Regions from separate parts of the Homo sapiens genome. Here regions 1 and 3 are each linked to region 2. The links come from fine-mapping of genetic effects on gene expression. A gene starts in region 2. Each other region holds a variant in brackets. All regions are shown on one strand. Distances are from middle to middle. Region 1 overlaps KRT74 (keratin 74). Region 2 holds the start of KRT73 (keratin 73). Region 3 overlaps KRT2 (keratin 2).

Region 1 (8,184 bases), 57 kb after region 2:
AATTTTTGGTGCCATGAGCTGAGCTCAGTGAGTGGAGCTGGCTTTTCTGTCGCTGAGTGCTACTGCCTAGTCCAGATGTCGTGGCTCAGGGTGTAAATATTCCTAAGAATGGCAGCATCTATTTCCTCTTTTGTTTGAATTAAAGACTCTGAATTTCTGCTGTATATTCATTAAGTTGTCCTTGAGTGTTGTCAGAGGTATGCTTCTGTCAGTCTGTTAATCTTTCCAAATGTTCCACCCTCTAGTGATGATGTGCCACCCTCCATTTCTCCCCAGCAAGCGTGCAGGACTCTTGCTGGGAAGCTGCAGGCCAACTCAGATGAGGCTGCTCTGGAGGCAATCTCAGGCTGCTGGAAGAGACAGATACACACTCATGTAAATCAGGGAAGGGCAGCCTAAGGCAGCAATGCTAGTAAGGGACTGGAATAGAGAGGCTAAGCAAGGAAGGCTTCCTGGAAGAGGAGGAGAGTTTAATTAAATAACCAGAAAGATGGACACATGGGCTCCTGGAGAGGGAATTTAAATCACAGCAACATAGTAGTTTGGACACAGGCTTTCATGTGCTTATTTAGTAGGGGGTGGGAGATCTCAGATTTTCCAAAGTCAATACAGATTGGGTATACCTTATCCAAAATTCTTGGGACCAGAAACATTCCTGACTTTGGATTTTGAAATGTTTGCATGTGCATAATGAGATACTTCGGGGATGGAACCCAAATCAAAACATGAACTTCATTTATGTTTCATATATACCTTCTGCGTAGGCTAAAGATAATTTTGTACAAATTTTAAATAAAATGCTCCAAAAGTTTTGGAGCACTTTGGATTTCAGACTTTTGGATTAGAGATGCTTAATCTGCAGTGGGGCTGGGTGGATTTCTAAGTCCCTCAGCTGTGGCCGGCAGAGTCTAGCTGTCTAAGCAGCTTTCAAATTTGTCTTGTGTCATGGGTGTGCCCAAAGATGTTCACCTCTACAGGCCTCAAGATAATGGGGACAGGCCTTGGGAGGATGGGGACTCTGGCCTAAGTAGTGGCCTCCATTCACCTCCCTGTGGCTTTCATGTATTAAGGAGGTCCTCTTCTGTGTGTGCCAGGGTGCAGTAAACCGTGGGAAACACAAGAGCCCAAGAGTGTGTTGGGCTTTCTGCCCAAATGTCTCCCTCTGATGTCACCACTGCTGCCACTGTGGATACTGAACTAGTGCCCTGGGAGTGGGAGGCTCCATTCTAGCTCTACCACTAACCAGTCACCTGTTACACACAGTGGTTCTTAACCTTGTAAGTCATGAACATTTTGAGAGCTGATGAAAGCCATGGATCTTTCCCCTGAAATGTGGACAGGGTCTACTGCATGTCCAGAGGTTCACAGATCCCCACAGCCCATCCATGGATTCCCTGGGTCATGAACCACCGGTTAAGAGCCTTTGCACCAGATACCCTTAAGGCCCTTCCTAGCATTGATGCTCTGTCTTTCCCAAAAGACCACATTCCCAGTGAGGGACCCAGTAAGAGGGCCTGAGGTGAGAGAGGGAATGAGACCCACAACCTGAAATAGCATTTGGAGAAGTATTAATACATGAGCCTCCGTGAAATCACTTCTTTCAAGGCTGCTGTGCAGCATGCCCCTGACAACTGGGCACACCTGAGCTGGTGCTGTTGGGCTGTGATGGCTGCACGCAAACGTGGCTCTGGATGCAGGGATGAAGGGCTAAGCAGATGTGATACAGTGTGTCCTCTACTAGAGTGCTGAGGTGGGCAGAAGGAGCAGCCTCTCTGGCTGCAGCTTATCCACCTGAGAAATGGAGAGATTCTCTGCCATCTGGGATTATGAAGATGCTGAGAGGTGCACAGGAGTGACTGTGCTCTTGCTTTTGGACTCAGAGTCCCCTGAAGCCCAAGAGGAGAAATCATGAAGGCAGGACCAGAGGTGATTGTTAATTTCAATTATTTACAGTTATGGCCATTTTGACACGGGTACCAAGACCATTCAATAAGGGAAAGAATAGCTTCTTCAACAAATGGTGCTGAGACAGCGAGGTATCCACATGCCAGAGAATGAGGTTGAATCTCTATTTTACATCATATACAAAAATTAATCAAAATGAATCAACAACCTAAATATAAGAGCTAAAACCATAAAACTCTTAGAAAAAATGTAGAGGGAAATCTTTGTGACCTTGATTTGGCAATGAATTCTTAGATATGACATCAAAAGCATAAGCAACACAAGAGAAACTAGATAAATTGGACTTCCTCAAAGTTAAAAAACTTCTTTACAGTAAGGGACATTATCAAGAAAGTGAAAAGACAACCTGCCAAATGAAAGAAAATATTGGAAAATCATAGAGCTGATAAGGGTCTAGTATCCAGAATATATAAAGTACTCTTGCAACTCAACAATAAAAAAAACAAACAACTCAGTTAAAAAATGAGCAAGTAATTTTAATAAACTTTCTTTAGAAGATACACAATGGCCAAGAAGCACAGGAAAAGATGCTCAACATAATTATTCATCAGGGAAATGTAAACCAAAATCATAACTAGGCACCAGTTTATACTCACTAGGATGATTTATAATAAAAATAACAGAAAATAATGAATGTGGTGAGATTATGGAGAAATTTGAACATTCATACATTACTGTTGGAAATGTAAACTGGTTCAGCCACTGTGGAAAAGTTTGGCAATTCCTCAAGGAGTTAAACAGATTTGCCATATGACCCAGCAATTCCACTCCTAGATAGAAAGCCAAAATAATTGAAAACATGGCTGAGCCCAGTGGCTCATCCCTGTAATCCCAGCACTTTTGGAGGCAAAGGCTGGGGGGCGGCTTGAACCCAGGAGTTTGAGACCAACCTGGGCAAGGGAGGTTGTCCTTGGGCAACCCAGGGCAAGGGAGATAGGGAGACCCTGTCTCTTAAAGAAAAAAAAAGCTAGGTATGGTGATGCATGCCTGTGGTGCCAGCTACTTGGGAGGCTGAGCTGGGAGGACCACTTGGGCCCGGGAGTTCAAGGCTGCAGTGAGCAGTGATTGTGCCACTGCACTTCAGCCTGGGTGGCAGAACAAGACCCTGTCTCATTAAAAAAAAAAAAAAATTAAAACCAGGTTTCTCAAACAAACACATGTACATGCATATTCACAGCAGCACTATTCACCATAGCCAAAGGTGGAAACAGCTCAAATGTCCATCAATGAATGAAAAAAAAAAAAAACAAAAAAAACTGTGGTATATACTTTCAGTGGAATATCATTCAGCCATAAAAAGGAATGACTCAGTGATATGTGCTACAATGTGGATGAATCTCAAAAACATTATGCTAAGAGAAAGAAGCCAAACAAAAAAAGCCACACATTATATAATTTCATTTATATGAAAGGTCTAGAATAGGTAAATTCATACAGATGGAAAGCAAATTGGTGGTTGCAGGAGTTGGGGAAGGGGAAATGGGGGTGACTGCTAGTAGGCACAGGGCTTTCTTTCGGGGTAATGACAATGTTTTAGAACTAGATTGAGGTTATGGTTGCACAACATTGTGAACATACTAAATGCCACTGAATTGTTCACTTTAAATAGTTAATTTTATGTTATGTGAATCTTACCCCAATAAAAAATAAAATAAAATTTGGGAGTGCAGCAGGGAAAAGGTCAGAGAAACTGTATCCCTGGACTTTGCTCTCTGCCTTCCCTACCGTGTGGCAAATAGCAACCTGGCATAAAGACAGAGTTGTCCATGACCAGCAGGGGGACAGACACTACTTACCCTCATTTGACTGGCCAAGGCAAGCCTGGGGGAGCTGGACTTCTGATAGCCAAGAGCTGACCATGTCTCTGACACTTGGCCGCTACACCCAGCTGAGGGCAACCACTGGCTCTCTCTCGGCTAATTAAGTGCTTGCTTAACTAACCACCTGAGTCTCAGACTTTGGTTATGAAGAGCAACTCAGTGCCCTCAAGTGGCTCTCATAGCTCTTGCTGATGCCTGTTGAGTTGAAGCATCTGAGGCCAAAA[A/C]ACTGCAATATTTCTTTTTCTCTGTCAGGGTCATGGCCTCTGCACAGTGACTTGGATTAAGATTTTAAGTGGACACCCAAAATCTTGCTTAAGTTCCCAAACTCACTGTATCTTGGTTCATTAGTTGAAGTGAGCACAAAACCCAATTGCTACTGGAATCTTCTCTCCACCTGGGATTTAATGAAACCTACAAGGCTCTGCAATGGCAGACCTATCTGCTGGACTGAGAAGTCCTCAAAGGCAGGCTGGTGTCTTCCTCTATCCCTGTATGTGGTAAACGCTTGGCACAGAGAGGCTGCTTAGTAAGTGTCAAATGGGATCACTGAATGCAAAAGAACAAGGCAATCAGTGTCTGTGCACTGTGTCCTGGGACCTCATCCACCCTTTCCTGCAGCTTCTTCCTATGCCTCTCCCTCTGCCTCTGACCTTCCCATTTTCTGATTTTTCTAACCATTCTCTCTAGGTTCCAAACTCAGTGTAGCAGGAGGCTTTAACTGAGTAATCTGTGTTCATTGGTAGAGAAAGTCTCATTGAAATCCATCCTCTGTGACCTTGAAAAGTCACCTTGGCCATCCTCCTGCCCTGGGGAAGGGATGTTCTTTCAGGTCTAAACTGTCATGACTTCTCCTGCTTTCATGGTCTCAGAGCTGTTGAATGAATGAATGAATGAATTTGATTCCCTCACTTGGTCACCAGCTGGGAGTCACTGCATTGCTCCCTCCCGTCATGGCTATTATTGAAAAAGAATATATTGAAAATATATGAAAAAGGGACAATCAGCTCCCTGTTAGAAACCACTAATGGAGAATAATGGAGACTCAGGGGTCTGAAAGCAACAGCTAATAGAAGATGGGAGCAATTATCAGGTGCAATGTCATCAGAAACCCATGTACGCATGCATAGACATGAGGCTGCAGGCTCACAAAGCTGATGTCTATGGAAGATGCAAAACATTTAACAGCTGGTACAAGCAGGCACTAACCAATCAGAGATGTCAGCCATGGACAACCAGGACAGCCATGTTCATAATGGCTGGACACCTGTTCTGCTCCCAGCCATTCACATACAGATGTGCACACACATCTTCTGATATGCCTTGGAACATGTCTGTCAGCTGGTAAGACATGCAGTGCTCACAGTTCATGCATTAAGCCCTGGAGCCTTTGGTCATTTTGGGGTGGAGGGATGCGCCCAGAACCTGAGCAGCAGGAGAAAGCTGCAGCCTGACCCTGACAGGGAAGGGGTGGAAACCAGGGGAATTCGGAAGGGCTTAGGGGAGGCTTCTTGGAGTAGCTATGTCCTGCCTGGTAGGCAGGAGGCTGGGAGAATAGCCCAGAGCATGACATCAGGAAAAAGGAAGCTGCCCGTAAGAAACATGTCAGGGCCTCACAAGCATCCCCAACCCCATCCTCACCCAGGTCCTGAAATCACATCTATTTTCTCCAAAAGAGCAAAGAAGGCTGAAAAGGGGACTGAGGGGTCAGATGTGGCTGGCTGGAGGGTTGTGACAGGAAGACAGGAGTGTATGAAATGTCAATCCTGGAAACCAGAGGCTTATAGGGTGGGCTGGCAGGAGGACCACCCAAGAGGCTGCTGCCAGAATTCCAGAGGGGAGAGGATGAGGGGCAGCCTGGGCCATGCCGTGGTGATAGATGCAGAGCAACTGCCTTAAGAGATGGCAGGTGACTTCTTGAGAGTGCGGAGCACCTGGGTGAGTGAGGGCGTGGGCACTGATGGGGTGGGAGGGTATATTAGGGACAGAAAGTGATGAGCTCAGCTTTTCACACTGTGGTTCAAGTGTTGGAGGGACAGGAGAGAGCAGAGACCAGAGCTGGTGAGGGTTAGAGGTGGGCATGCTCACCTGGGAATAGGACACGCAGGGGCACTAGACATTTGTACTCAAGAAAGCCAGGGTGGTGTGGAGGCTAAGGGCACAGACTATAGCCAGCATGCCTGTATTTGAACCTTGGCTCAAATCCTGGTTGAGTGCTGAGCTTGGTGGTTCACACTTGTAATCCCAGCACTTTGGGAGGCCAAGGTGGGTGGATCACTTGAGGTCAGGAGTTTGAGACCAGCCTGGCCAACGTGGTGAAACCCTGTCTCTTCTAAAAGTACAAAAATTAGCCCGGTGTGGTGGCCCACACCTGTAATCCCAGCTACTCGGGAGGCTGAGGCAGGAGAATTGCTTGAACCTTGGAGGCAGAGGTTGCAGTGAACTGAGATCGTGCCACTGCACTCCAGCCTGGGTGACAGAGTGAGACTCCATCTCAAAAAAAAAAATCCTGGTTGAGTACTCTCTTGAGTAAGCTGCCTAACTTCCTGTGTCTCAGCATCTTCATCTGTAAAGTGGGGACAATAATGGCACCTACCTCATAGGGCTGTTGTGAGAATTAAATGAATTAATATATGTGAAGCGCTTAGAAGGATGCCTCACAGCACTCACATTGTATATGTGTTAACCACTGCTATTATTATCATTGTCACCATTATTCTTATTTACAAGGTGCCTCCCAACCACCTTGGGGAGTAGGTGGAGCAGGTGTTGGCACCCCCTCTTTTAGAGATGTGAAAACAGAGGCTTAGGAAGGTAAGAGACCTGCCCACAGTCACACGGCTCATGAGTGGCCAAGGCAAGACTGGGACCTGGGTCCTCAGAGTCTCAAGTCCATGCACTTCGCTAGAGGCTTGGCGTGGGGCTGCAGCATGGCTCAAAGGAGGTGCTCCCAGCCACGGAGCTGAGTGAGGAGGAAATGAGGAGAGGGGCAGCCCCAGATGACCCTCTCTGTCAGAAATATGGCAAAATGGGAGGGGAGCCATGCCTGGAAGGACAGCCTTCCTATCCTTTATATCCCAGCTCCTCTGGGGTGGGCACACCCTCAGCCTTGGCAGCTGCAAAAATGCTGACCAGCTGTCCTGCCCCCCAATGAATGGTGGGTTGTGGCCAGGCCCCCGGCACTGCGCTCCATCCGGCTGGCTGGGGCTGAAAACCCTGCCTATCTGAAACCACTGAAAGATGAGGGGGTGCCAGGAGGGGGGCTTCTGGGGGATCCATAGATGACATGCTCATTTCCTGGGTTCATCTGCTGAGGAGGGCTGGCAGGACCTGGGCTGATGTCATCCAAATAGCTCAGCTCATTCTCTCTAATTCTGGAGACAATTATTTGCTCAGAGAACCACCTGCCCCTCTCTCGGTGCCTCCAGCCTCTCTCCACCCCCACCAACCCTGTCCACATAGCACCTGGATTCTGCTGCCTCAAACATGGATTGCTCATGCCCTCCCTGGCTCAGTAGCCCTCAATGGCTCCCCATTATGTGCACAGCCTGGCATCCAGAGTCCCCCCCCCGCAAAGTCGTCCTTTATTCATGATTGCTCCAGCCTGGTGGGTCTTTTCCTCACAAATGACCTGCCTTCTGCCACCCAGGGCAGTTTTCCTCATTCCTCCATGCCTGTCCATCCAAGCCTTCTTCCCTTAAGAGACTGGGATCCAAACTCCATCCTCCAGGCAGCCCTTGTAGGTTTAGTGTCCCCACATCTATGCATTCCCCTTTCCTCTCACCCAGCAACTACCCTCTTATATTGTACTCGGTTGTCTTGCCCTGCTCTTGGAGGTCTTCTCTCTCCAGACTTATCCGACCCAAGAGTGCTGAGAGGAAAGAGCAAGATACAAATTAGAGCCATGGGTTCACACACAAATGTGTCAAACTGGTCATGATCACAGACACAGAAACAACAATACAAAGACACTTACAAATTATACATGTAAGCCAAATAAAACATGTGGCTATAAAACCAAGAGCCACACAAATGTAATGTAACATGCCATTTAATTTTTTTCTTGAATGTCCAAGCCAGATGTTCCTGGTATCTTAGGGGTTTGATCCTCTGATATGACGCATTCCCCCGACTGTTTCACAGATGGGTATAACTGGCCCAGAGATGTCCACGCCTGCCCAAACATTGCTCAGAATTCAATTCTCATGTGGAAAGCTAGACCCCTCCCATGGAGGGCATGAAAGAAAAACAGAGCCAGACGGGCAGCTCAGATCCTGCCTCCCCACCAGGCCAGAGGGCTCCCCAAGCAGGGGTGCTGGCTCCTCCCACCCCTAAATCTTCCCAGATCTCAGTTAAAGCGGGACTGGGGGGATTGGGGGTTTAGTCCCCCTAGTGAGCTGTG
Region 2 (8,184 bases):
TGCTAGCCTCCATAGTTTATGATGAGAAATCTTCTGTCCTTCAAATTGTTTTTTCCCTAAAGGTAAAGCATTGTTTCTCTTTAGCTGCTTTCAGGTTTTTATTTGTAGTTTTCAGAATTCTGACTATAATATGTCTAGGTATGAATTTCTTTGGGTTTATTCTGTTTAGGGTTTGCTCAGCTTCCTGAATCTGTGGGTTTACGTCTTTTGCCAAATTTGGGGAATTTTTATTCCTTATTTCTTTGAGTTATTTTTCAGCAATACTTCTTTTCCTTTCCTTCTGAACCCCAGTGACTTGACTGTTAGATCTTTTGTTAGAGTCTCCCTGATCCTGAGACTTGGTTCATTTTATTCTTCTTCAGTCTGTTGTTCAGTTCTCTTTATTATTCAGATTGGGTAATTTTTATTGTCCTCTCTTCCAGTTCACTGATTCTTTCCTCTGGCCTTTTATTCTCCTGTTACGTGTATCCATTGAGTTTTTTATTTTGATTATTATATTTCTTAGTTCTAAAACTTCCATTTAAAGATCCAGAAGCTGATGGATGTGGGTCTGATCGCAATTCAGTGATGACTTGTTCATCCTCCACTTCCCTTCGCCCTCGTGTGGAAAGAGGAGCTGGGACTGTGGCAGGCAGCAAGGAGCGGAAGGGAGAGAAATGGGATAGAAGGCCTCATTTCTATATATTTATACACAACCCCAGGGAAGGCACAGAGACTTGTACTTGCACTGTTCATGCTGTCACTGCCTCTGGGCCCTCCCAGCACACGTGTGGTCTCTTCACCACTGCCCTCCAGTTCCGTGTCTCCTTCTTCTGCCCCCAGTTGCTGTCTCAGCTGCTCTCCCAGAGTTGGTTATTTTTAGTTTGGGGCAGTAGGCATATATGGGGAGGAGAGGGGGTTCTTCCCAGACTCACATCCCAGATGTTTATTCCATGTCCTCTTCTCCAATAAAACAAGCAAGTTGGGGATGTTTATAAAAAAATAAAAAATAAATAAAACTTTCATTTAGTTCTTCTGGTTTTTAAATTTCTTTGTTGAAACTGTCTAATTTGTCATCTATTTAGCATGTTCTTAGTTGTTCATTTAAGCATGTTTATTGTGGCTGCTTTGAAATCTTTGTCAGATAATTTTAACAACTTTGTCATCTAAGTATTGGCATCTATCAATCGTCTTTTTTTTTCATTCAATTTGAGGACTTCCTTGTTCTTGGCACAATGAGTGATTTTTTAAATAAACATTTGGACATTTTGGTACTATTATGAGATTCTGGATATTGTTTAAATCTTCTGTTTTGGCTGCCTTCTTCTGACATTGTCCTTGCAGGGGAAAGGGTGTGGATGCTACCTTGTTATTGCCAGGTGAGGGTGGAAGTCTGGGCTCCCCACATGGTCTCCACTGGTACCAAGTGGGTCAGGCACTTGTTACCTCCTGGTGGGGATGGAATCCCGGCTTCTTTCTTGGACTTCCCTGATTCCATCTAACTGCTGGGGGAGGGGGCAGTTGGGGCACCTCATTATAGCCTGGTGAGTGTGAAGGTCTAGGCCTCACACTCAGCTTTTGCTGATGTGGGTGTAGGTGAAACCATAGTATTTTCTGTGTGTTGAGATGGAATAGAGTGATTATTCTCTGTAAGTTTTCCATCTTGCTAGGCTGCCCCTTTCCTGATGATGTGGCTACAGAGATCAAGCTTTTGTTTAATCTTTAAAAATCTGAGCCTTTCCAGATTCCTGCCTTCTTCTGCCCCAAGTCTGGAATATAGGAGACAAATAGAAAACCTAGAGAAATAATCATCATGTCTTTCACTGGGTCCTGAGGTCCCTGTTGGTGTGCCTTCTTCTCTACGCTTCAGAGTCTTCTTATGTTTGTGAAGAAGGGAAAAGTATGTCTACTTCATCTTTCTAGTTGTGGAATATCCACATAGGGAATACTGATTTCACAATATTTATTTGATTGCCCCTGGGGGTGACAGAAAGTTGATTTCCTGCCTGTCTCTCTCTCTCTTTCTCTCTCCCCCCCCCCCCCTTTCTTTCTCTCTTTTCTGAAACCATCAGAAACTCTTGCCCTAGTGTCTGGGCAGAGGCTAATGGCAGGACAGCCCCACTGTGGGAAGTGGGGCTGACTTGGTAATTGGGTTCATCTGGCATTGAGTTTCCCCTGGTGAGGGCAATATAAGGGATGTGAAATATAAGGAGCTCACTGTGTGAAAACCCACTTAGAGGCATTTCAATGACAGGTGCTAGGGATACTGTTCTTAGGGAGAATGATTTCAAAGGGCACCTAAGAGTTTTTTAGCCTAGTCCATGACTGCCTGAGAGTCCTTTGCCACTGGAGTTCTGGGAAGTGAGTAGAGAGGACCAAAGGGAGGATAGGACCTGGATCTTGTCCTCAGGAAAATTTCTGGCCGTTAGGAAAGATTGACATACCTCCTGAACACAGGTAGAGACATCAAATTAGAAGAGACAATTGACATAATAGATGCTGTTGTTTGGACAACAAACAACATGTGGGAGGCTGGGAAGAGAGGTGTGATTGGATTAGGAAAGTGATCAGAGAAGGTTTCCGGAAGTGCCTCTGTGGCAGGTTCACAAGATGAGAAGGCCAGGGAGGGGAGGGGAAGTGAAAACCATAAGGAGAGGGGCTGTTTGCTCGTAAGCACATCCACGCCATACTGCAGAGTTGGCATTCACAGCATAAATGCCATTGGGGGTTATCTCAGGGCCTGTGACATGCAGCAATTTGTAGTTTTGCTGAGATGCAGGCCTGAATCACCTCCACCCCAGTGCTGGTGTGCTGAAATGAGCCAATTAGGGAGTGATTCTGGCTGGAATACTAAGCATTCTCATCACAATGCAGTTTTGTTGGTCTTCTTTGTGCCTTACAAAGAAACTTACAAAGGAATAGAAACTTTGGGTCAGGTGCGGTGGCTCACGCCTGTAATCCCAGCACTTCGAGAGACTGAGGCGGGCAGATCACCTGAGGTTGGGAGACCGAGACCAGCCTGACCAATATGGAGAAACCCCATTTCTACTAGAAATACAAAATTAGCCGGGCGTGGTGTTGCATCCCAGCTACTCAGGAGGCTGAGGCAGGAGAATCCCTTGAACCCAGGAAGTGGAGGTTGCGATGAGCCGAGATCATGCTATTGCACTCCAGCCTGGGCAAGAAGAGTGAAACGCCATCTCAAAAAAAAAAAAAAAAAAAAAGAAAAAAAGGAATAGAACTTCATGTTAGCTAAAAAAGATTAAAGGACTTCCAAGTGGCATTGCCTTTAGTGAAATTGAAGACATCAAAGAAAATGATTATTCTTAACTAGAAAACAACCATATTGTATAAAACAGAGGGGAGGTTGAATTTGGCAATTGCTTAGTACAACAATTTTAGAGGCATATCATAACCTCTATACAGAAATAGAAAAGAAGGATGGGCCAACTGTTCATTCAAGTACTCCAGCTAGTGAAATACTTGTGTTTTTATGGAGGAAATTCTATACTATGGATATATTTGGGATTTGGGATTTGGGAAACTCTTGGGTCACATACTTTGGCAATGTCAAGGATCCATGAAATTCAAATGTCTTCCCCTACCTCCCCATCTCCAAAATTGTGAGCTAGGTTTGGTCTTCATAATTCGGGACCCAAGAGCCTAGCACAGTACCTGGGAGAGAGTCAGCCCTCAAGAGAAGTCTGTTAAACGAATGGATAAATGAATGAACAAGTAGATGGCTGGCTGGCTGGTTGGACGGATAGATGGACGAATGAATAAGGCGGGCATAGCTCTGAATGTGGAGTCAGAAGACCAGCCAAGGGAGTCCTCAAGGCTGGGGCCTGTGCTTTTTGGGGGCATTTTCATTCTCTGGGATTCACACAAAGAAAGGACTCACTAAATGTTTGCTAAAGGAATGACATCCTCAATTATCTGAACCTTGGTTTCCCCATTTGTGTAATGTGGATCATCACCATTCCCCTCCATGCAGACTAAGTGGATTAAATGAGCTTCTTGTGTGAGGAGCTCTGTTACACTGTAAAGTGCTGCACCAGTGTCAGCCATCGTGAATGGTGCAATGACCATAATTTCAAGGTCAAGAGTCAGGGTAGTGGGATGGTAAAGGGAAAAAGAAGTCAGTGTGTGCAAAGGAAGGTGAGCAGGGCAGCCCGGCTGGCACAGAGGAGCAGGAGAGCTGCCTGGGAGGGCACAGCAGGGGGCTGGCAGCCAGAGGCTGGTCCTGGATTCCCAGTGTGCTCCTCTCCTATGGCCCTGGCCAGCCATCAAACCTGTCTCCAGGAACTCTGGGAAGCCAGGCAGCAGCAGCCTCTTCTTAACCACATAAAAGCAGCTCAGCCAGGGTCCCTGAAGCAGCCCATCTGATGCTGGCATGGTTGTGAGATTTCTAACAGATGACACTGTCAATTAAAGGTCTCCCCTCTGTACCCCTACAATCCCAGGCCCCACCACTCCCTGGGGAACAGCAATTGAGACTGCGACAAACCTCCCACCTAAGATCTTTCTATGGATAATGTGCCCATGCTAATTACACATGTTCATTAGATAAAACTCAAATTACATGAGCAAGACTTGCAAGACTAGCACTTTGGGAGTTTTCAAGTCATTTACCTGGTGTCTGATTTTGCTGGGAGAAAATGATTTCTTGCTTCCAGGCAAACTGAACCCACAAATTAGGCCCATGGCTCCCTCTTGAGTCCTATAAAGTGGGAGCCCAGGATCACAGGCTGGTGAACTGCATCTCAGCTAAGGGTCAGCATCTTATCCCCACTTTCTGGCCTCCCCACCATGAGCCGCCAATTCACCTACAAGTCGGGAGCTGCTGCCAAGGGGGGCTTCAGCGGCTGCTCCGCTGTGCTCTCAGGGGGCAGCTCATCCTCCTACCGAGCAGGGGGCAAAGGGCTCAGTGGAGGCTTCAGCAGTCGGAGCCTTTACAGCCTGGGGGGTGCCCGGAGCATCTCTTTCAATGTGGCCAGTGGCAGTGGGTGGGCAGGAGGCTATGGATTTGGCCGGGGCCGGGCCAGTGGCTTTGCTGGCAGCATGTTTGGCAGTGTGGCCTTGGGGTCCGTGTGTCCGTCGTTGTGCCCGCCCGGGGGTATCCATCAGGTCACCATCAACAAGAGCCTCCTGGCACCCCTGAACGTGGAGCTGGACCCTGAAATCCAGAAAGTGCGTGCCCAGGAGCGGGAGCAGATCAAGGTGCTGAACAACAAGTTCGCCTCCTTCATTGACAAGGTGGGTCTTTCTGGAGAAAGCTGATCTTGGGCTCCCCTTTTAAGGACTCAGGAGGGAGCCACTGCCCTAATTTGTGGTTCAATTTGCCTGAGAGCAAGAAATCATTTTCTCCCAGCAAAATCAGACACCAGGTAAACAACTTGAAAGCTCCCCAGGTGCTGGGCCCATAAGGCTTGCTCATGCCGTAGAGCCCCTTCCTTCCCCCGCCTTCATTGTCCTTGGGGTGCTCCCTGTCTGAAGCAGACGAAGGCAGGACACCTCCCCAGGATGCAGACATAGCCCAGGGAGGAACTGGACAAAGCCTGGACATCAGAGGCAAGGGACCAGGGTTGGAGGGGTGAGAGGAGCCAGCAGCCTAGCCCAGGAAGGTGTCCAGGAAGCAATGAGAGCGGTCTCTGAGTTGAGAAGTAGCAGAGTGACAGCCTGTGAGACTTAGAAGCTAGGCGAAGGAGATGCCCTTGACAGCCTGGGGCATCTAGACTGCCATGCGACCCAGCTGTTCCTCCTGTGTCCCCTGAAAGCTCAGACTCAGTCCGTAACACACACAGCCTATGAGGCAAGGCAGCTGGAGGTCACGGTGCCCTAGAGCAGTGGTTCTCAAAGGTGGCCCTGGAACCAGCAGCAGCAACGTCACCTGGACGCTTGTTAGAATGCACACTCTCAGGCTCCACCCCAGAGCAACTGAATCAGAGACTCTGCAGCAGGGCCCAGCACCCTGCATTTTAACAAGCTCTCCAGGTGATGCTGATGTACACTCAGGTTTGAGAATCACTGAGGAACAAAGTGGTAGGAAGGTATTGGGAAGCAGAGACTTCCTAAGCTTAGAGGAGCAGGGGAAGCTCACCCGGAGCGACAGTGAGGTAGGGTGGTGAGGCATGAGTAGGAGTTTTCAGATGGAGGTGGGGAAAAGGCAATCTAGGGAGACAGCACGTGCAGCATGGTAGAACTTGTCTGGGGAATGGGAGACCTTCGGTTTACGACATCACTGTATGAGTAAAGAAGGAAGCCAGGAGGGCTGGGCACATTATGAAGAGTGTGATAAGGAATATGGACTTGACCCTGAGGGTGATGTGGAACCACCTGAGGGTTTTAAGCAAGGGAATGATATATTTGTAGGTTGCAACTTGAGAATGCTTGTTCTGCTGCTGGGACAATGCTGTGATTGAGATAGTAGAGATTCAGACATGAAAGCAACTTAGGAGGGCCGGAGACCCCAGATAAGCTGAACATCTGCCTCTGGCTGGGCTGGGAGAGCCCACGCACAAGGAGGGAGAGACTAGGCAGAGCACGGGCCACCAGACCCCGAGCAGAAGGCCTGACAGTGTGAAGGCTAGCACAGGCCAGCTTGTGTCTAAGGGGCTGCCTTGGAGAGGTGGCCTGGACTGAACATGGACATCGGTCCAGGCAGGTTTGGATAAGTGCAGAGGAGACAGGAGATCTAGATCTTGATAGTTTGAGAGGGAAATGAAGACATTGGTGCCCCTCCCAACCTTAAGGGCTGCCTCAGAGTGAGAACTTCAGTCAGATAAAGGACCCTAGGTAAGGAGTGGGGGTGTGAGTGGCATGGGTGGCAGTTTTTAAGGGCTGAGGCTCATTTTTAAAGCTAATGTAGCATAAGAAAACACAGTTCCTGTCCAGGAAGGGAATTCTCACATCCCCTCTCCACATTGCTTAAGTATGTGTGGCATGGGTTCCAGGTGCGGTTCCTGGAGCAGCAGAACCAGGTGCTGGAGACCAAGTGGGAGCTGCTACAGCAGCTGGACCTGAACAACTGCAAGAATAACCTGGAGCCCATCCTTGAGGGCTACATCAGCAACCTGCGGAAGCAGCTGGAGACGCTGTCTGGGGACAGGGTGAGGCTGGACTCGGAGCTGAGGAGCGTGCGCGAAGTGGTGGAGGACTACAAGAAGAGGTGAGCAGGACGCCACTCCAGGCTGGTCTGCCTCCCAGGGTGAGGCTTTCCCAGCAGGCACTGGGATGTTTGCCTCTGGCCTTGGAGGTATTGGGTTCATCTGTCCCAGCAAGATGAGAGCCTTCTATGGGCAACGAGGCAGACTAGACAGTGGACAACCAGCCTCTTGGGCAGCGTCAGGGCTGTCCTGGCAGGTGATCCCCTCCTTGGCATGCTCCTTCCTGCTCCCTGTTCAAGGGAGCCTGTATTGTGTGTGCCGCAGCCTCTTGGCTCCTAAGCTCACCACTGTGCCCCTGAGTTCCAAAGAACCACCCCCCACCCACCCGCTGCTCTCTGCCACAGGGAAGGAGGTGGAGTTCCTGTTGGGCTTCCTCTCTCATTGCCTTTCGGTCCTGGACACGGGCCATGTGCCTTCTTTCTCCCCTGGGAGATAGTTCTGGCTTCCTTGGGACCCCTGCCTAGGGATGGAGGGGAGTTGTTGGTAGGTTGTCAGGCAGCAGGATTGACACAAGAATCATGGCTGAAAGGGGTAGCTGGCATGCTTCTGTGATTCAGATACTGAGTGGGAAGAGGAAGAACCTACTCACTCCCCAGGCATCAGAGGAAATCAGACCTCAAACCACCCAGGCTCAGGAGGAGGTTACTTCATACCCGGCCTCCAACTCTGGCCAAATAGTCCTGGTGTGTTGGGATGGACTTGCAAAGGTATAGAATAATACCTCTTAAAAGGCATATAATATGGGTATCTCTTTTCTCATTTCACTATGAGAACGTATACACACACACACAGACACACACTCTGCTTCCTGTGATGCTTTCCCTGCAGGTATGAAGAAGAAATAAACAAGCGCACAACTGCTGAGAATGAATTTGTGGTGCTTAAGAAGGTGAGGAGGGTGCATGGGTTCCCTTCAGTCCCCCAGCAGTGGGTGCTGGGCTAAGAGAGAGGAGCAGCTGAGGTCTGAGCCCCCCGCAGAAGGGCCTGGAGCCAAAGTGCTGAAGGAGGAGATGAAGGGCTTGCTGCTTGGGACATTTTG
Region 3 (8,163 bases), 23 kb before region 2:
GTGGGAAAGTTTTCAGTTGAAGCTGAAGAGGGTGGGAAGAAGAGAGGAATGGGGAGGCTCTACAGAGTCACAGTTCTTTCTGAACTGAATGTTCACAGGCAGCCTCATTGTATAATTTCTGATGTGGCATGGATTCTGAATAACAGACTCTCCAAGATGGATTTAAATACACAAATGGGTTGCAAAGTAGGAAGTGAATTTGCTTTTCAGTGACCTTGGATCAACCACGCAACTGTTCATTTTTTATCAGAGCAAAAATTGAGAGGGATTGACATGCAAGGTTGTGCATAAATGGAAGGGGGTCTGTCGTCATTGTGTGACCTGGCAGCATAGAAGAAAGTGGGGTGTGTAAGCCCTGGTGGCTGCTTAGAGAGGCTAAACTGCACATTTGCGGGTGGAAGTGGTAAAACAACATGCATACAGAACCTAAGTGTTCCACCACAACTTGTTTTTTCTCTCTCCCTTACAGGATGTCTGGAGACCTCAGCAGCAATGTGACTGTGTGTAAGTAATGGGGTGTGGTCCTGTTCCATGGGGTGTTGTGTCAGGTGGAGGCAGGGAGAGGCAGTCATAATCTCTGTGGTAACACCACCTCTCTCTGCAGCTGTGACAAGCAGCACCATTTCATCAAATGTGGCATCCAAGGCTGCCTTTGGAGGTTCTGGAGGTAGAGGGTCCAGTTCCGGAGGAGGATACAGCTCTGGAAGCAGCAGTTATGGCTCTGGAGGCCGACAGTCTGGCTCCAGAGGCGGTAGTGGAGGAGGAGGTTCTATCTCTGGAGGAGGATATGGCTCTGGCGGTGGTTCTGGAGGAAGATACGGATCTGGTGGTGGCTCTAAGGGAGGGTCCATCTCTGGAGGAGGATATGGCTCTGGAGGTGGAAAACACAGCTCTGGAGGTGGCTCTAGAGGAGGCTCCAGCTCTGGAGGAGGATATGGCTCTGGAGGTGGGGGTTCTAGCTCTGTAAAGGGTAGCTCAGGTGAAGCTTTTGGTTCCAGCGTGACCTTCTCTTTTAGATAAAGATGAGCCCCCACCACCACCGACTCTCCCAACCCAGACTCTCCCACTCCAGAATGTAGAAGCCTGTCTCTGTACCTCTAACTGGCAGCAAGTTAAATTTTTGTCATTTATCTCTGATGGCACTTTGAGGGAAAAGAATGTCCACATACAGTTTTTGAAAGATCTTCTCTCCAAACCAGTTAGTTAGAGCCAGTGACGCCTCTGTGTTCTGGGGCGGAATCTGTGCTGTCTAGGTTTGTGCTTCTAGCCATGCCCATTCCCGCCCCCACCATGCCTCTTTGCATTGCCCATTTTCCAGATGTGTATTCTGTTGAGGACCCAGGCCCATCCAGGGATTTCATCTCTAAGCCTGGCAGTGCTGGGGGGAAATGTGTTTCTGTGTATATAGCTCCTCTTGTCCACTCTGCTTTCGGAAGTGCTGTGGTCTGGGGGTCTTCATAATAAACCTCATTTGCAATTCATATCATGTGCTGTCTGCGTGATGTCAAACCTTGGTGGAAGTGGGCAGCCATGGACAAGGGAGGTTTGGGCATTAAGGAGGGGCTCCTGGGTGAGGAGCGTGCCTCCCTGAGGGAAGCCCAGGCGCCAGCCTCTGGATGAATGGGAGCCTGGGGATGGGTGTGTGGTTCTCAGAAAGTATTTACCAGACTTGAGGGCCATGGCATTGCCGGGAGGTGGACAGGTAGATTTGTGGAAGAGTCTCTTTTCTAGAAAAACCCATTCTTCCTGAGCATTTCCCACAGACTGCCCTCTCCCTTTTCCACAAAGGCTTTGGCCCGGGATCACTTCTCCTCAGGGCAAAACCGCTGAGCCCCTGGCACCATCGTGGTGAGTTTCCAAGCTCCGAGCTTCCAAGGCAGACCTTCCTCAGCCTGATGTAGGTCCTGGCCTCTGTCTCTGCGGGGGCTCTGAGCAAGCCTGGAGGAGGATACCTGGGAAGAGTCTGGAGGACTCTAAAGTGGCCTCCAAAACAGCCACTTCTATTTTCACAGGACACCCCTCCTGTCAGCGGAGTCCCACCACACTCAGCAAACAAGCCCTTCTCTCCTCTCTCACCGCAGCCCCCGGGGCCTGTCGCATGGATGTTGCCATCAGGTTGGCCTTCTCCTGTGGGTGTGAAGATGCCTTCAGCCCCTTCCTCAGGAAGGCCATGTCACCTGAGCAGGGCTTCCAGGGAGTTCAGGAATGGTTGGGCAGGTGGGATTGGGCATGCTTGGGGTTGGTGTTAGACAGGCCAGAGTTGCCCAAATGGGAGTTGGTGGCTCAGGCTAGGTCAGCTTAGCTTTCTGTATGTGGCGTTTGGTTATAGTAGCTGTGGCTTAAAGCCACTCAGAACCACTCCTGGAGGGTCCTTTTTTCTCCCACTCCACCCCAGCTTTAAAACCTTGGAGAGTCCTTAGTTGAGTCTGTGACCGTCTTCCTGTTCCCAGAGGTTGCAGGGACGGCTCTAATAGAGAACAGATGCATTCACTTGCCTCCAGACCAGCCAGGACCCAGGTATGAGGGTGCTGCAGGAACAGCTCTGAAGGCTGCAGGTGGCAAGGTGGCAAGACTCCAGGCTGAGCATTCTAAAGTGATCCGCTGATCAGAGAAGGTCCCTGAGAACCACCCAGGCCTCAGTCGTGGGGAGAGGTCTGTGGGGAGAGGGTGCAGGTTGGGAAGAAGTGGTGTGAGGAGCTGGCTGTTTTCGGGTATGTACATAGTGTAGACATGAACACAACCTTTAACAGGGACTTGGTCCCAGACATTTGAGGCTGGACAGGAGCTTTGGTAATCAGTGTATTTGAACTTTTCACTTAGGTGAGGAAAAAGGTAAGGCCCAGGGTGGACACAGAAACCAGGTCTCCCACTCCCAATTTATTCATTTTTTAAAAGGCTTTGGGAATAGCAATCCATTCTAATAACTTTCTGAGGGGAAAAGAGGTGAGGCAGGTAAGGTGGCAGATTTATTCCCAGGGGAGCCTTAATTCTATTTTTTTTTTTTTTGAGATGGAGTCTCACTCTGTTGCCCAGGCTGGAGTGCAGTGGCATGATCTCAGCTCACTGCAAACTCCGCCTCCCGGCTCAAGTGATTCTCATGCCTCAGCCTCCCGAGTAGCTGGGATTACAGACATGCACCACCATGCCTATCTAATTTTTGTATTTTTGGTAGAGACGGCGTTTTACCATGTTGCCCAGGCTGGTCTCGAATTCCTGACCTCAAGTGATCTGCCTGCCTCAGCCTTCCAAAGTGCTGGGATCACAGGCGTGAGCCACTGCACCCGGCCTTAATTCTTGAGACTTTCAGTGGTCTGAACCTCTAGCTCCTTCTATCGTTTCCAGTTCCCCATCCCTTCCCCACCTGAGACACAGCCCTTCTGGTTTCCAGATCATATATATGCTACTTTCTTGCTGGACTCCAGTAGTAAAATTAGCCTTGTACATTAACTCAGAGGGACCCAGGCCTGAGGCGTGACAGAAATCAAGCTCTAAGCAGGTATTGGAGAGAGGGGCTACCTCTGGAGAGGGACCCTCCTTTCCCTCCGAAGTGTAGAGTAGCCCAGAATCTGGGCCACACCCTCCCACCAGGGCCCTCTGCTGCTCCTCCACCAAATTTGGTAATTGACTTGTCAGGTCCTGGGCTTCAAAAAGGAGACAGGCACAGGCAGAAGGGTTTTACGAGCTCGATTTCCATAGGGAACTGGGTTAAACATTTCCGTTCTGATGATGTTG[C/T]AGAATATTTGGGACATCCTCCCTCTTGTGGTTCCCTCCCTTTCTCTGCCTGTGAGTTTTAGTATGAATTCAAATAAACCCTTTTTCTCTTCCTCACCAAATTCTTTCTTTCCTGTCATTTGAAAGGAAATTCCTTTGGACATTTCACCTCCTTCAGGACAGCTCACCTCCTCCAGGAAGCCCACCTAAATGGAACACTCCTGCCTCCTTTTCTTGCTGTGAAGTGGGGAAGGAGTGCCCTGGGAGTGAGGAGACTTCAATGCTGATCCTCATCTTTGTGGGAACTGTTGCGTGACACTGGGCAAGTCCTTTCTCCTCTCTTGGCTCAATTTCTGCCTCACTTTAAGGACTTTCAGTGGCCAAGATTGTTTCTACAGATCCTTCCAGCTCTGATGAAAAGAACCCTGTCTGTGCTACCGGGTCAGCCAGTGCTTACTCCTAAAGCCTTTCAGCCCAACAGGGGATTTGGGACACTGTCAGGATATCCAGAGAGACCCTTTGTGAATAGGTGTGAGCATGTGAAGCTCAAAGTGGTTTTCATTCTAGTTCAGTAAATGCCTGTTGGACAATGACTGTGGGCAAGGTTGTGCATGTGGCTACGTGGGCGTATCAAGACTTATAAGACAGTGCGTCCTGTCAGGGATTTATGGTCTAGTAGGGGAAGAATGAGAAATTTGCAAACAGCTATTAACATAAGGCAGAATGTAGTAGTGTGCATTAATTTCATTAAGCGGCCCTTACTAAAAATACATATTCTTTGTTCCAGCATCCCCTCCTTCTCCCTGAGTTTCCACTACAGAGGAGTCTAGAAATCTGCATTTTTAACAACCTCCTAGGTGATTCTGATGCTGGTGACACAAGGGCCATGGTTTGGAAAGCACTGATGGACATGCTAAGGGAGCGGGCTCTGGGGTGGGCTCAGTTGCTGGCACCTTGGAATTTAGTAGGCACTAAATGAAAAGTTGATGATCAGATAAAAGAATGTGTGACCCTGGGCAAGTTATTTAACAACTCTGAGCCTTTCTTTACTCATTTGTAAACAGGTAGCAACAACAGCTTCCTCAGAGGATTGCTGGAGGTTTACACACTGAAATCAATGATAAATGTTTATTCTGTAGGACCTGTGCCATCATAAGCATGCAGTACTGTAGGTTACATTATTATTATTATTGTAAGTTACAGGCAGTATTTTGGGACCGGAGAAGACCTCATGGATGAGATAACTTTATATCCAGGCACTGGCAGATAGGTGGGATTAATTAAAGAGTAATAACAATTCTGCACGAACTGTTTCAGAAGATGGAAGAAGAAACACCTTCCATCTTGTTTTATAAGGCCAGCATTAATGGAAGAAACTAAAGAACAAATCCCTCATGGATATATATATATATATATATATATATATATATATATATATTCAAAAATTATCAGCAAGATATGAGCAAATTCAATCTAGAAAGATATAAAAAGGATAATACATCATGACCATGTGTTTAAAAATATTGTTTAAAAATAGTGAGGTATATGTTTAAAATGTATCCCAGAAATAAAAAGCTTGCTCAACATTCAAAGAATTAATGTATTCACCATATTGACATAGAAGAAAAAAACATAAGACTGTATCAATAGATACAAAACATTTGACAAAATTCAACACCCTCCATGGTAAAAACAAACAAACAAACAAAAACAACAACAACAACAACAGATTCTTAAACTAGGAGTAGAAGGGAACTTCGTTAGCCTGATAAAGGGCATCTGTAAAAACCCATGGCTAACATACTTAATGGTGAAAGTCAATGCTTTTCCCACAAGCATTTCTTGGGAACAAGCAAGCGTATTTGCTGTCACTACTCCTATTCAGCATCGTACTGGGATTCCTAAATAGTGCAATAATGCAAGAAAAATAAATAAAATCCTACAGATAGGAAGAAAGAAATAAAACTGATTTATTAATATATGATGTGATTGCATATGTAGAAAATCCAAAGGTATCTTATTAGTCAACATATTTCTGTATTGAGAAAATCTTGATTTATACAGATAGATGGGTGTAAATGGTAATGATATTTGTAACTAATTAGACTTGAAATTTCTGATTACTTTCCATTGAAAGATAGATGGCAGGGGAAGCTGTAGTTCAAAGTGCAGAACGCTGAGTTAATCTAATGCATTGTTGAACTCCAGTAAATTAAAATTTACTACAGATCACATTCGAATGTGCATGCTGTTTATTTTAAAGTCAACTTTAATGAGGATTCACTTATAAATAAGAAAATGCATTGTATTACATTTTAAGCATATACCTCAATATTTTTAAACAAATGTATACATCCTTATAACCTCTATCACAATACTTATATAGAAGATTTCCACTACTCCAATGAGTTACCCTATGCCCCCAGCCAACTTTTGATCTCCTTGTCGATACCACTGACTGGTTTTGCCTATTCTAGGATTTCTTAGGGTTGATGTACCTCCTCTCCAACACTGGGCATTGCCAGTCTTTTTCATTCTACAGGGTGTGCATGTTATCTCTTTGTAGTTTTAATGGCATTTTCCTGATGACTTGTGATGTGCAGTGTCTTTTTTTGGTTCTTATTGGGCGTTTGTACATGTTTTAGGAAAGGTCTGTCCAAATCTTGTGAAAGTTTTTATTGGGCAGTTTGACATACATAGTTGCAGGAGTTCTTTATATACTCTGGATAACAGTCATTTGTCAGGTATATGTATTGTCAATATTTTCACTCAGTGTGTGGATTTTCTTGTCATTTTCTTAATGGCATCTTACAAGCAGCAGAATTTTCTAATATTGATTAATTCTAATTTATCAAATTTTCTTTATAGTTTGGACTTTTGGTGTCTTAAGAAATCTTTGCTTACCTAATGGTCACAAACATTTTCTCCTACAATACAAACTTTTATCCTAGAAGTTTTATAATTCTAGTGTTTACATTGTCTATACCCCATTTTAAGTGGCCATTGGGGTATGGTCTAAGGTAAGGGTCCAAGTTCATTTTATTCCCCCAAGTAAATATCCAGTTGTTTGGGCACCAGTTGTTCAAAAGACTATTGTTTACTTGTTGAACTACCTTGGCAACTTTGTCAAATATCAATGGAGACATATGTGTGGGTCTGTTTTTGGATTCTTTATTCTGTTGATTAATGTATCTGTGAAACACTTCTAACATACAGTATTGATATGGTGGCTTGAATCAGTCTTGAAATAAGCTAGTATAATACCTCTGATTTTCTTATTCTTTTAAAAAATTATATGGGATTGAATTTTTGAATTTGAGTATAAAGTTTAGTATCAGCTTGTAAGTTTCTATCAGGAAATACTGCTGGGTTTTAATTGAAATGATGTTGAATCAATAGGTCAGTTTGGGGAGAATTGGCATTTTAAGTATCTTGAGTCTTTCAGTCTATGAACATAGTACCTCTCTCCATTGCTTTAGGTCTTCTTTAATTTTTCTCATCAGTGTGTCACAGTTTTCAGCGTACAGGTCTTACATATGTTTTGTTAAATTTATCTCTAAGTATTTCATGTTTTCATGCTATTACAAGTGGTATTTAAAAATTTTAATTTGTTATTTGCTCCTTGCTCATATATGGAAGCACAGTTTTAAAAACTGGCCTTGTTTCTTGTGAGCATGCTAAATTCATTTGTCACTTCTACTAGTTATTTTGTAGATTCCTTAGGATTCTGTATGTACATAATTATGTTGTCTATGAATAAAGATGATTTTGACTTCTCCTCTCCAAACTGTTTGCTATTGTTTATTTCCCCTCATTGGTCTGGCTAGGATCTTCAGAGCAATATTGAATGGGGGCAGCAAGAGTTGCCATCCTTCCCTTTTCCCTAATCTTGGAGGGAAACGTTTATTTTTCTTCACCATTGTCTATAATATTAAATGTAAGCATTTTTAAAATTTGTTTGTTTGGTTAGATGGGCAAGTTCAGGAAGTTTCCCTATACTCCCAGTGTACTGGGTGTTTTTATCTTGAGTGAACATTGATTTTTTTCAAATACTTTTCAACATTCAGATGATCATATAACTTTTCTCCCTCATTCTGTTAATATAGTGAATTTCATTGATTAATTTTCAAATGTTAAATTAATCTTGTATTCCTGGAATAAACTCCATTTGGTCATGCTATATTATTATTATTATTATTATTATTTATTTATTTTTTTTGAGATGAAGTCTTGCTCTGTTGTCATGCTGGAGTACAGTGGCACAATCTTGGCTCACTGCAACCTCCGCCTCCCAGGTTCAAGTGATTCTCTTACTTCAGCTTCTTGAGTAACTGGGACTACAGGCATGTGCCACCATGCCCAGCTAATTTTTGTATTTTTATTAGAGAAGAGGTTTCATCATATTGGCCAGGATGGTCTCGATCTCTTGATTTCGTGATCTGTCTGCCTCGG

What was found.
Region 1: its variant is fine-mapped to the expression of KRT73 in whole blood (TOPMed, PIP above 0.99).
Region 3: its variant is fine-mapped to the expression of KRT73 in unexposed skin (GTEx, PIP above 0.99).

What each region holds. Positions count from the first base shown.
Region 1 is chr12:52,557,797-52,565,980 of GRCh38, reverse strand. It overlaps KRT74 (keratin 74), which reads left to right. Exons shown (of 9, transcript NM_175053.4): 9 at 1-199. Among named protein-coding and RNA genes, the nearest start is that of KRT71, 8.7 kb to the right of the region's middle. The variant A/C (reference allele first, on the strand shown) is at 4,010.
Region 2 is chr12:52,615,129-52,623,312 of GRCh38, reverse strand. It overlaps KRT73 (keratin 73), which reads left to right and starts at 4,754. Exons shown (of 9, transcript NM_175068.3): 1 at 4,754-5,235; 2 at 6,933-7,147; 3 at 7,974-8,034. The coding sequence starts at 4,789. It overlaps KRT73-AS1 (KRT73 antisense RNA 1), which reads right to left. Exons shown (of 3, transcript NR_126005.1): 3 at 8,008-8,184.
Region 3 is chr12:52,637,876-52,646,038 of GRCh38, reverse strand. KRT2 (keratin 2) reads left to right here. Exons shown (of 9, transcript NM_000423.3): 8 at 470-504; 9 at 605-1,481. The coding sequence ends at 1,020. Among named protein-coding and RNA genes, the nearest start is that of KRT2, 10 kb to the left of the region's middle. The variant C/T (reference allele first, on the strand shown) is at 3,733.